Homo sapiens: one gene and its partner. The protein of the gene in region 1 interacts with the protein of each later gene in a pairwise test. Each region holds a gene or a part of one and is shown on either strand. Other genes may lie near its edges. The genes, in order: RNF220 and PELI2.

Region 1 (7,154 bases):
CTCGCTGAGCCAGTATCCCGCGACCCCGCACTCTCGGACTGGCCCGGGCTGTCTCGGATTCGCACCCTTTGGCCAAGCTGGGCCTGAACCCGGGTCCAAATCTGGGACCATACCCGGCCATGCCTGAAACACAGGCGTCGGCCCTAGCCCGGGAACTGTGTTAGCCTTATGTTCCCTGAGCTCTCGCATATGGTGGTAAAATTTCTGTTAGAGCGGTGTTTCCAAATACCCCCTGGGCATTTGGTGTGCGGGAATTCTCTTCAAGCGAAGAAGTCTGTGAACTTAAAAAAAAAATTTTTTTCCTGCGTTCTTAACAACCCCCCACTACTCTGCCTCATTTCCCATTGTTCTTTGCTTTTTAAGTTCCTTGTTAATTTTTTTAAAAGTTTATTTATGCAAAGGAAAAATATCGTTTAATTTGTTCTATTATTTTAATTCCTGGCTTTTGGAAACGGTTCAGAGACCACAAAACTGTCACCTGTTGTAATAAGCAGAGGAGTGTTGTGTGTGCATTTTAATTGCCAGCAGAGCCGTAGTTTGGTGGGCGCCCTGAGCTCGGCTCCGGGAAAGAGCCCTTTGCAGCTTTCTTTGTGGCAGTCATTTGCAAAGGGGTTTGGCTCTCAGCTACGGCGGAGGCAGAGGGGGCAGCAGCACCGCTTCCTTCTATGCCGATCCCGGGCGCAGGTCAGGAAGCCCAGACCTTGGACTGGGATGGGAGATTACCTACTCTCTGAGACTTTCTCTTGGGCTTTCGGTTTTTCTGTGCGAAAGTGGCTAGTTCGCTCCGCAGAGCGCGGAGCGCTGCGCATCAGCCCAGCCTCAGACATTTTCACGTTCCAAACGCGGACGTCTTCGTTTCATTTGTCTTGGTTCTGGCGTGTTTAACCACGCAATTAGTAATCTCACTAATTATTCAGATAGCTGGCGTTTTGCAATCACTTTAAACCAGGGTCAGGAGTGTGATTTAAGAAACAAACAAACTCCCACAGATACGGAACTGAACCAAACCCATCACGTCAAGGATTTGAAATTTTTTAACTCAATATTTGTTGGTCCCTCCGTCCAACCTCACTGCCTGCCAGACAATTTATTTAGCTTCGTGGATTGATCCCTCCTCCTTGTTTAGTTAATTCAACAAAGACTTTTTGCAATCTGTTTGGAGTTTGTCTGATGCCGTGGAAAAGTAGCTGATGATTTATTTGGTTGCTTTTCGATTTCTGTCTTCAGCCCTTCTTTCTCCTCCTTTCAGCGGGGATGTCAGCTGTTATTACTTCCTATTGATCCCTTTGCAAAGTGAGAAGTGAACTAAAATTAATGTCAATTCCACTGCTCGGATCAATAGCTGGAGTTATTTTAATCTGGATTTGCACGAAGTGCTAAATTAAAAAAAATCAGCATAGAGGCAGAAAAGTAACAGTTACTTACTTTCCCTTTGCCGGGTTCTTCACAGTCACCCAAATGCTCCATCAAGCTGATTATCTTACAATCCATATTTTTTTAATTAAGAGGGTCAGTTAGTTTTCTTATTTTGGGTTCTGTGTTTAAACCCATGACATTTTGACATTGGGAGTGTATTAACTATAGATTTTCATAATGACTGTGGTCAGCTGAAGCCTCATCTATACAAGTTGTTAATGTGAGGAGAGGGTAAGAAAGAAAAGGGAAAAGAAAAAAAAGAAAAAAAGCACTCCCCCCTCCCCCATGGAGACCAACGCCCACGCAATGAAGTAAAAGAGATGTGGCCTGGAAAAATATTGTTGATTTATTTTCAGTGTAATGAAGTTTTCAAATGAATAACCAGGGTTGAGTGATTCACCAGGTTCTGTTGGAGTGTCCGGTGCTGTCACCAGATTCCTAATTTATGAAACTCATTTAAGATAATGAGGTGATCTAGGAAGTAAAAATAGCAAGTGAATCCTGGGGGGGGTCGTATTTTGAGGGGGAAACATTCCTCCCTTCACATTTCTTTTCTCCAGTTTTCCTCATATAATATTGCTTGTTGATAGATAAGTAGCTATTTCTGTTGTGAAGAGCTGCTTAGAACCCTTGGAACAGCCCTAGACCCACTTTCAGAGCGTCCATGTTGTATGACCATTAATCTGACTAGAAAACAGCCAAGAACAGGATTCCCAGACTTGTCAGCCTAACTGGCTGTCCTTGGCAGATCATTCCCTGCACTGCTATAACTTGACAGGAAAGTTATTTAAAATTTGGAAGAGAGAAAAATCCGTTAATGTGAGATACATAATCTGGTAATTTAGCAATGATGTCTATAAGGAAAGATGCCAAATGAGGAAGCAGTCTGATGGTGTCCACTCATCTTCCCAATTAATAACAGTCATTGACATGTCTGCTACAGGATGGGAGAAGGAAATACTCTCTTTGCACTGCATTAAGCCAGGAGGATTCATCTACCGTTTAACTGATGTTTCTCTGTTTGAGGGAATACCAAAGATACTCCAGGTGGGCTTTTTAAAAGGGACGAGGTAGATTTTATTTCTGATATGACTCTCAATTTAAAGGTATAATTTGTAGCAGACGGTGATTTTTGGTTATGCTTTGAGTTTCACTAAGTTTCTATTTCGTGTATATTTTTGACACTAATAAGTCTTGGTATTCATCTTATATTGTCCCGGCTTTTGATATATAGCCCTTCTCCCAGCCCCCACTCAAAATACACTTTGGAATGGAACCACTGACTATGAAAATGTACAACCTAAATTTACAAGGGAAACTGAAAGAAGTCTCTCCGAACTCCAATTTGTTCCGGGGGCCTTTATTGGACATCAGCTCTGACTGGGCCAATAAGCAGAGCAAAATAAGTCAGAAATTTTGTTAACATTTTGTTCTAAATGTTAATGGCAAATCCAAGGCAGTTTACAAATCTACTTAAGAGTGAGTGCATTAGTAACTAAAATCACCGATCTGTTCTTTGCTGCCCTTAGAAGACAGATGCTTCTAGAGAGCGTATGCCAAAGGCACCCATTATGGTTTTAAGTGTTGTCAGAGACGCCAGGCATTTTATTGATGAAGGTTTTGTTCCTTCTCAGAAAAGAGAAATAGAAAGCCCATGTGATTAGAGAGAGGTGTGCCTCAAAATAAATGTTAATGCTGTTTGTTCATATAGCACTTTTTTCTGGAAACAGTCTTAGATGATACATGAAGATGTGTGTGTGTGTGTATATGCCAATGTGTATCTTTTATCCATGTGTATACTTTGTACTAACTAATATGTACAAGTGTTCCTGGTCTAGATGAACTTGAATTAGGGATATTTCAGTATCAGGGTGTTGTTAGGGGAGATGAAGAGAGGATGCATATGTGGGGAATCGTATAGGTAGAATGTGGTCTCTGAACATCAGGCCTGCCATGAGTGGTGGATGCAGGTGGAAGCACTTTAAAACATAGACCCCCACTTAATCTACTGGATGGCTTGGCCTTCCAAAGCTCATTTGTTCAGAGAATATCGTATTTGGAGGTTTTATGATATTTTTTTCTTTGCTGGGCTCAGGCGCATTTCACCCAGAACGTGTAGGGACCAAAGTCAGCTACGCGTACATCACAGTAAGTTGTCTATTGATTTTCCTGAATGAAAATGGTCTGATGCTGCTGCCCACTGGCTCCTAAAGCCTGTGGTGTCTCTTGCCCGAGCATCTGTGAGCCAGAAGGATGGTGTTTCGATCACTTGGGGTTTCCCTTTTTTTCCTCCCCCTGACTTTCCTCCCCCTTCTTTTTTTCTCTTTGCTGTTTCTACAGGTCTTAGGAGGGAATGATTCCCCAGTAATATTCCCTGCCCTGACCCAAAGTGCTGGTTGGCCTCCCTCCCAGGGAAGACTGCTTCTTGCGTAACGCCGGCCACAGAAAGAGACTCCGATGGACTTACACCGGGCAGCCTTCAAGATGGAGAACTCATCCTACCTTCCCAACCCTCTGGCATCCCCAGCACTGATGGTCCTGGCATCCACGGCTGAGGCCAGCCGTGATGCTTCCATCCCTTGTCAGCAGCCACGACCCTTTGGTGTACCTGTCTCAGTTGACAAGGACGTGCATATTCCTTTCACCAACGGTTCCTATACCTTTGCCTCTATGTACCATCGGCAAGGTGGGGTGCCAGGCACTTTTGCCAATCGTGATTTCCCCCCTTCTCTACTACACCTCCACCCTCAATTTGCTCCCCCAAATCTAGATTGCACCCCAATCAGTATGCTGAATCATAGTGGTGTGGGGGCTTTCCGGCCCTTTGCCTCCACCGAGGACCGGGAGAGCTATCAGTCAGCCTTTACGCCGGCCAAGCGACTTAAGAACTGCCATGACACAGAGTCTCCCCACTTGCGCTTCTCAGATGCAGATGGCAAGGAATATGACTTTGGGACACAGCTGCCATCTAGCTCCCCCGGTTCACTAAAGGTTGATGACACTGGGAAGAAGATTTTTGCTGTCTCTGGCCTCATTTCTGATCGGGAAGCCTCATCTAGCCCAGAGGATCGGAATGACAGATGTAAGTACTTTGGTTCCAGCCCTCCCTTACCCCCAGTAAGCCCTGCCTCACCGTGATGTTCAACAGGTCGGTGGCGTTTTGCATGCTCCTAGTAATAGGAAGGGCCAACTACTTCCCTTTCACTAGCTGTGGAGTGCTAACCTTTGCTTGTCTCTTATCAGTGAGCACTGATAGTTCTTGAAATATTTTTCTGAAAGTAGCCAGAGGCAAGTTGGCCCCAGCACAGCCTTTCTCTCCGGACCCTAGTGGGCTTATTCTCTGAGGACTTGAGTGAAGAGGGGTGCCACCGACGTACTGAAGTGAATGTCATTTCATTAAGAAGTGTCGGCTCCTAGGGAATTTGGGGGGCCTAAAGAAACATGTCCACCCCTCCTCTCTTTGCTGTCCTCGTTATGTTTGTCTGATCTCAGTGTTATTTTTTAGCTTTTCCATTGTATCACATCCAGCAGACTCCACGTGATTCTATTTTCACAACTCTCAGCCCTTGTCCACATCAGGCTATTTTTCAGAGAAGGACAAAGGTGTCGTCAATCACCATAAAGCATTTCACACAGCTGTGTTTTCCTTGCGATCGCAAGGCTAGAAAGCCGACTTCTCTTGGGATTTCACAGGTTTGCTGGATGCTTATCCTGGGGCTCACTTTTAGGACTAGACACGGTTGACCTGTGTGACTGCTCCAAATTTGATGTTCACAACTATTATTAATTTCTGCTTATGAAACAGCTTTTTTTCATGTTCTCCAAGTGCCTTGTTGGGCTCTGGCTACACTTATAGCTGGAACTAAACCTTTATTTGGAACTTGTAGACTAGGAGTGCTGAACCCTGCAATCTTTTGCTCTAATATAATCAGAAAATAATTGTGTTTTGAAGCTTTTGGGCTGTGGGTAGACAGAGCAGTTTTCTTCAAGCCTGGTGAGAATTTATGAACTGAGGGTGTTTTTTCCACGCAACCCTTTGTTCTCAGATTTGCTTCATTTTATTTTCTTAAGAAAACTACATCTGAGGTTTGCCTTCCACTTTTCTCTATTTTTTCGTGCTCCCATCCTCTCTATAACCACCAACACGAATACCATTTTTTTCCCTCCTCTTTATGATGCCGAGGAGAGTAATAGAGACATTGCAGCTCTCTCCCCTGTCGCCACTGCTTCGTCAGGCTGTCTCCTTGAATTAGGCACTGTGTTAACTTCCCTGCGCTAAAAGGCATCTGCCTAAACCCAGCGTACCTTTTCAATAAAAGTCATCATAAAATCAACCTGCCTTGTAAATCCATCGCTCTTTGGTTTTGAAATATGTTGCAAGTGTGTCTTTTATGTCAGCCTCTGTAAGCCGGAGACCTCCCCACTTAAGGGAGAAGGCTGCTGGCTGACAGCACTACTGCTAGTGTTGCCCTCTCACTTTGGCTTTGGTTCTCTTTCACCTTTTCAGTTTCTGTTGACTTGTGTGTCTTGTGATCCTGCTTCTTGGATATACCTGCTGAACAGGTATCGGCATTGTGTTGGTTCATTTGATTTTATTTTAGTTTTCATTTGTCCAGTGATGTGCAAGTGATCAAGGCTAGTTATAATGTGACCTCCAGCCAAAACTGCCTTGTGTTAGGGTGTGACAGATTCCGCCCCTTTTTTTCTCCAAATACAAGTTGAAAATGAAATCTTCTCTTAGCTAATATGCCACAAAGTAACATCTGGAGATTGAGATCTCTTTCTTCTTACCTAACAGATCCAGCTTGTCTCCATTTTTCTATCTTTTTAGCCCAAACCTGTATCCGACTCCAGAGCAGGAGGAAGCTTGTTAGTCAAGTCAGAACTCATAGACGTGGATATCCATTCCCCTCTGAGTGTCAAAGCCATAACTCTTCTGTTTGCCTGGTTTGCATTGTGTGGTGGTGGCATCCCCCATGGAGATGGATCCCTCACACAGGAGTACGCCTGGGTGGAGAAAAATTAAATGAGTCTGTCTCCCAAAGTGAAATGGAATTCTGACCTTGAAATTAATGAGATTCTGATCAGAAGGGTGGGGAAACTTCTTTATTTCCAATGCGGTGTTATACAAATTGGAGTCCCTTTCCTCTTTTATTCATTTAAAATAGTCTTCCCTTATAGAGTACCCTGTGTTCTCCTTTTTTTTTCTTGTACACAAGCATAAAACCTATAGGAGTGTCTGTGAGGGGAGGGTGTTCGTACACCCTCGTTATTATCCAGAGTTGCATTTGTGACTAATCTTTAATAAAAAACAAAGGTGCAAAGTGAAAAGGAGGCTGTGCTACCCTGTGGTCACCCTGGAGTTGTGCTTTTTACTCCCTTCCTTACCTTAGGTGGTTAGCACATCCCTCACTGGGTCATACTAGATAGCGTTTGTGCTTTTGATTGCGAATTTTTGGAAGGCAGGAGAAGTATTTTTCTGTAAGGAAGGGTTGAAGAGGCACTAAGACAAAGTCTGCAGCAGCTTTCTTGGCTCCTGTCATATGCCGACGTGTGTCGGAATATTTATGGTCTGTTTTATGTAAATACATATTTAAGGGTCGTTAGAAGGCCTGATTATTCCCACTAGATGCCTTTCAGGTCCTCCCTACAGAACCGTTTTGAAATAAGTAATATTTCTCAGATAATCGAGTGACAGTATACAAGACTGCTTCCAAAGGGAGAGAAAGCTTCAGGGG
Region 2 (5,768 bases), on another chromosome or scaffold:
GAGTCATTGTGTTACTGACTTAAGGAGTTAAAAAGAAAATCTTAGGAGATTTGTGAAGTTCATTAAAATAACCACTACAGTAATTGAACATGTAAAGCTAGGTATACATACTGTGCTCAGGGCTTTGTACATACGGCATATATGTATCATATCCAGTGATCAGATGAGGAAGATGAGGCTCGGGGAGGATAGGTTACTCCCCCAGTTCTGTTTTTGTGGGATAAATTGCTTCCCTGTGTTATCTTCAAATATTTTTTTGCTTGTTCTGAGAGGAAAGAATCTTGGAGTGATTTGCTTGATTTTGCTTTTAAAAGGCATGTGTCTCAAACTTGTTGTAGGTGGAAAGTGAGACCAACGTCCTGCAGGACGGCTCCCTCATTGACCTGTGTGGGGCCACTCTCCTCTGGAGAACAGCAGATGGGCTTTTTCATACTCCAACTCAGAAGCACATAGAAGCCCTCCGGCAGGAGATTAACGCCGCCCGGCCTCAGTGTCCTGTGGGGCTCAACACCCTGGCCTTCCCCAGCATCAACAGGAAAGAGGTGGTGGAGGAGAAGCAGCCCTGGGCATATCTCAGTTGTGGCCACGTGCACGGGTACCACAACTGGGGCCATCGGAGTGACACGGAGGCCAACGAGAGGGAGTGTCCCATGTGCAGGACTGTGGGCCCCTATGTGCCTCTCTGGCTTGGCTGTGAGGCAGGATTTTATGTAGACGCAGGACCGCCAACTCATGCTTTCACTCCCTGTGGACACGTGTGCTCGGAGAAGTCTGCAAAATACTGGTCTCAGATCCCGTTGCCTCATGGAACTCATGCATTTCACGCTGCTTGCCCTTTCTGTGCTACACAGCTGGTTGGGGAGCAAAACTGCATCAAATTAATTTTCCAAGGTCCAATTGACTGACGCCCTTGACAGCCATCTACGACTTTATTAACAGGTTACTGTGAAGATTTTGCCACTAACTCTAGATTTTACCTTTTTGTAATGCTGTTTATCAGAGGAGGGTGACAGGGGCTGGAAATAAAGAGAGGGGACATGGTGATGAAACATGGCAGGAGTGTAACAGATACCAGTGGTGTGTTGCATGCTCAAAACAGCAGCGTCGTCATTGAAGTCTGCTTGATTAAACCATAATATCTTTGTAATAATTGGATTTAAAATGCTATGCTTCTATTTTTAACCTTGGGTTTTTAACCAAGTTTTTTTTTTTTTGTAATCTTGGACAAGACTTTAAATCATATTTTACAGATGTAGAAGAAATTTATTCAAAAGTGTGGGCTCATGAAGTTCACTTCAGTGCAGTGTGGTGTAGGTGTTACGCGAAGGGCGCACAGTGTCTAGAAATACTTGATCGTGGCTCAAACCTGACCAGACAGCAGAGGGGCGGCTCTGTACAGTGTGACTGGTGGACAGATGGCCTTAGGCACAGGTGGTTTTGAAATCTGGGGCTTTTTCTGATTTATTTTTCTGACTTGTTGGGGGAGAGAATATTCATAACTTGTGGGCTTTTTTTTTTTTTAACTTCAGTGGAATTTACTTTAGATATTCATTCATCAAATACATGGGACTTCACAAACAATTTTCCATAACTTTTTAGCCTGTCTTTTGTTATTTCTGCCTAATATGATTTGCCCCGATACTCATCTTGCACGGCCAGAACTGTTTGGTTGATTAAAATACATCAGCTCTTAAAAACTCATTAACTGAGGGTAATTACAGTAGTAGACATGGTCTGGGTACTATACTACCATGTTTATTTGCTGACTGAATTAAGATTTAAGAATGATTAAAAATAAGCTTTTACTTTTTAAAACCACTTGAGGTTTCATAAAGCTTGGGGTTTTTTTTTTTCCTTTGTTAAGAAAGCCAACCAATCACAATGATATAGTCATTGTTGTGCACTCCCTTTTCACCATCTGTCACCTTCCCTTGCAGCTTAAGGAGCCCAGTAAGTTTTGAAAATGTTTGCGAATCAAACTAAATTTAAGTGGGATGATTAGATATACACAACACCAAGTGGTACATCTGCAGAGATAATTCAAAATTCCTGCTTTTGAGAGAGCAAATGAGTGTTGCTGAGGAATAATTAAATGAGAATTTCATAGGAGCTCCACCATTCCTGTTACTTTCATTTCATTTTGATTAATAATTCTTGGATGCTTGGCATCGATCGTATCACTGCTCCTAGAAGGTAAAGATCCTTTAGGACATGAGACTGGTAGAAGCTGGCTGAGATAAAATAAGTATTTATTTAAACTAATGTTCTCTTAATTTGACCATTGCAGATTTGGGTGACTTTTTTTTAACCTTTGTACATATACGTAATTTATATGATTCTAATGTACTATATCCATACTTGAATTGGTTTTTTCGTATTTTGCCTACTGGCAAATATTTTGCCTATTTTCAGTCGTTCTAACCTATTTGAATACGCTTTTCCTTAAAGTGATACGATAATATTACTCTTGATTGCTGCTGCTTAATTTGATGTAATATGTTTAAAGTTCAGCCTCTCAGTTTTAATATAGCTTTATTTTTCAGTGGAGATCATTGTTTAGGATGAGACATTTTTGGTTTTGGTTTTGTTTGGGTAAATTTTAAATGGTGTGAAAATCGATGACAACAGTCCTCTTACAGATAGCTTGCTGTATTCTGTATAGCTTACTCTACCTGCAGACAGAAAATGAAAGAAAAAAATGGACTTGCCTAGAATAATATATTGAATGCCTTTTGATTTAGCCAGAGTCTCTGATGATTAGCTTTCACTGATAGAGTATGTCTTTTCAGCCTGTAATTCTTTGGGCCCCAAAGAATGACAAAGGAGGCACTCGTTCTCTTTTCTTGCTGTATGCCTAGAAAGTGGTTGAAGGATTCTTGATGCCCTAAAACCATCTTGTAAGCTAAATGGTCTTGCATCCAGAAAGGCCAGATTTTACCTACCAAGAAAAAAAGATATTTTTCCAGAGAGTTAGGTATATCATAATTTTCCATTTCAAGTCCTGTTTATAAGTCTAGTCATTCTGCAACGTGACATATCCCCCAAAATGAAGTTACCTTCCAAGTTGGACACGTCCCGTAGTTGGGCATATGTCTAACTAAAAGTTTCTGACTTTTAGTAAATTCAGCTTAAATATAAGTTGAAATTTGGGAAATAATTTCCAAGCTCTTGGAAGGGGTAACAGTGAACCGCCCTCCATGGGCTCCACATCTTTTCCTTTGGCTTCCAAAGTCAGGTCCCGCCCACCCTGCCTAAGGAACTGCAGAGAGGTGGCAAATCAGCAAAAAGGACACCAGGCTCTTCTTGGCCACTTGTAGGAAGATCCCTTTACAATTTTGACTAAGGAGATTTTTTTTTTCACAGTTGAGTTAGTTTGTGAAAATAAAGAACTCTGTAGCTCACCAAGGTGGAGAAACGCAATTCAGAAAAGTAATTTCTCCAAGGTCACTTCTTTTTTTATGTCTTGCCATCACTTTAAAGGACTAGCCCCACTCCCCCATGTGTATACACAAGGAAATTGCAGACCAATTAGTTGTCTTGGCCTGACTCTAATGCCTTTTGCAAGTAGCTTTCCAGAAGTAAAAGTCCCAGTGATGTATTCCCATAGAAATATTTTTCAGTTGTTTATGTCGTTTACTACAAAAAAAAAGATTCAGAGTGGATGGAGTACAACTCTGAGTATTTTTCTAGTCCGGAATTTTTTATTAATAATCGGTGCTGCCGGGTCATGCATGCTGCAACTCTCAACATTTCCCTTATTTGGTTCAGCTTTTAGCAAAAAGGGCTACAGTTCACCCTGCAGAGTATTAAGGTTTCTGGATTTTTTTCTCCCAACTGTGGCCCAAAAGAATTAAAATCTGTTAATATAAATAGAGAACATATTTATCATTCCTCGATAGTTAATTATAGACTTTGGTACCTTTGTGCCTCAGGGAAGCCACGTGATATAACTGGTTATAGAATTTCAGGGTTAGGGTTTAAAGAAAGGAGAAAGCCATTGGAAAAATGATGGGCTCCATTAAGGAGACTAATGAATCTGGATGCAGAAATATGTCAGAAACTGGCATAAACATGATTGTAGTAGAATTTATTTTCCAGTACCAATAGGGAAATTATTTTAAGTTATTACATTTACTGTATTGGGAAACTTGAGGAGAACTCTTTAGTTCATAAAGCTTCAATGTCTTTTTTTTTTTTTTCATGGAAAAACTCAAACCTCTGTTATTTGGGAGCTCAGTATTGTGTGGACACTTACGAGAGTTTTCTGCTTAATTGAAGTGTAATATAGGTTGTAGAATTGTTACCTGCAGTTCTATGGTTTTGTTTCACTTCTTTTCTTTTTTAAAGCCATTCTGTTCTTTGGATGTGCTTGAAAGGGTGTGTGATTACACCATTGTTAATGCTGGGTAAAAACTATCTTCTTGCAGCCTTGCCTCATAACAGTGGAATTTCTGATAGACAAACCACAGGACTTTGATTTTAAGCCAAATCCATCTCCATCCCTTTACTGTCAATCTTCTGTCCCAGTAGTTTAGCCTTTGTGGCTTAGGTTATGATGCGCCTCCTTCTGTGCGACCAATGAGACGACTTCAGCATCTTTTTAAAATAATCTAAGCATCATTGAAGCAGTAACACAAAAAAAAGGTTCAGTATTTTCTTTTTAGTATAACTTACATCCTTTCAAATAAGTCTTTGCCCTCATGAAGAATCCCTAGAGGAAGATAAGGAAAATAAGTATTTTCCAGTTTTGCTTGACAGTTTCTAAACAAACAAAAATAAACTCAATGAAAGGAAAGATGTTTCTTTTTAGCTGAGATGACAGATTGCTTCTCTGTATTAAATAGTCTAGAAGTTAAGGGGATGGTCACATTTACCATGTATTGTGTTATTAGCAGTTAAATTTTATGAATATGTTTGTAAAATTGTTGTTTTATATTTCATGTCAAATTGAAAAGTTTATTTCTTCACTATTGTACCTGTGGAAATACAAGCCATTTTACAGGAAAAAATCTTCAAAAACTATTAAATGGATATCAGCCTGTTTGTGAGCCATTGTCTTCAGATTCTGTGGTTGTCACTGAGTTCATTAGGACATTTAGTAGGTTGATACGAGTAGAACTGATTTTTTTCACTTCTCTAACTTCCAAGTTAATCTCCAGCTGTTGAGTTTATTAATTGTTTTATATTCTGCACAATACATATTTAAACCTTGATTCTGAAAATCCCCTACATTTTTTAATTAAAGAAATTTCCTTGGTGCCTATATTACTATTTCTCGTGACATTACATCACTGTCAAATAAAGTTAACTTCCAGGGGAATTTAACCTGACTTGTAGAATTAATGGATTTTTGTCATGATCATTTCAGCCATATTGCTGCTCTTGTGACAGTCTTCATTCACTTTTAACAACATAATAAGGATTGTGTATAAGCCTTCAAGCCTTCCTTGAAGCCTTAAACTAATATATCTATCATAAGAAAATGTATATATTTATGACAAATTTTGTTCTCATCACATTGATATTCAAAGAGTTTTAGTATTATTGAGAGAAACAGATTTTTCATTTCCAGAAAAAAAATGCACATTTATATAGGCTTTTATTTCAGGGGATAAGTGTTCCATACTTTGTCAAATCTAAGATGCCACGAATTGTGAGATGTGTTATAGAAAATCACAACTGGTTATAATTGTAAGTTACATTCCATTGGGCAAGGAATACACCTCACACAGCATACAAACATTAAATCAAAATGGGTCAAAGAGCTA

The links.
Region 2: the proteins of RNF220 (region 1) and PELI2 interact in a two-hybrid assay, tested with the Homo sapiens proteins (one study listed by BioGRID).

What each region holds. Positions count from the first base shown.
Region 1 is NC_000001.11:44,408,225-44,415,378, forward strand, and holds part of RNF220 (E3 ubiquitin-protein ligase RNF220), read left to right. Parts: exon of another isoform or gene 1-3,564; intron 3,565-3,756; 5' UTR 3,757-3,873; coding exon 3,874-4,498; intron 4,499-7,154. UniProt on the Homo sapiens protein: E3 ubiquitin-protein ligase that promotes the ubiquitination and proteasomal degradation of SIN3B. Independently of its E3 ligase activity, acts as a CTNNB1 stabilizer through USP7-mediated deubiquitination of CTNNB1 promoting Wnt signaling.
Region 2 is NC_000014.9:56,296,262-56,302,029, forward strand, and holds the end of PELI2 (E3 ubiquitin-protein ligase pellino homolog 2), read left to right. Parts: intron 1-338; coding exon 339-905; 3' UTR 906-5,263; downstream 5,264-5,768. UniProt on the Homo sapiens protein: E3 ubiquitin ligase catalyzing the covalent attachment of ubiquitin moieties onto substrate proteins. Involved in the TLR and IL-1 signaling pathways via interaction with the complex containing IRAK kinases and TRAF6.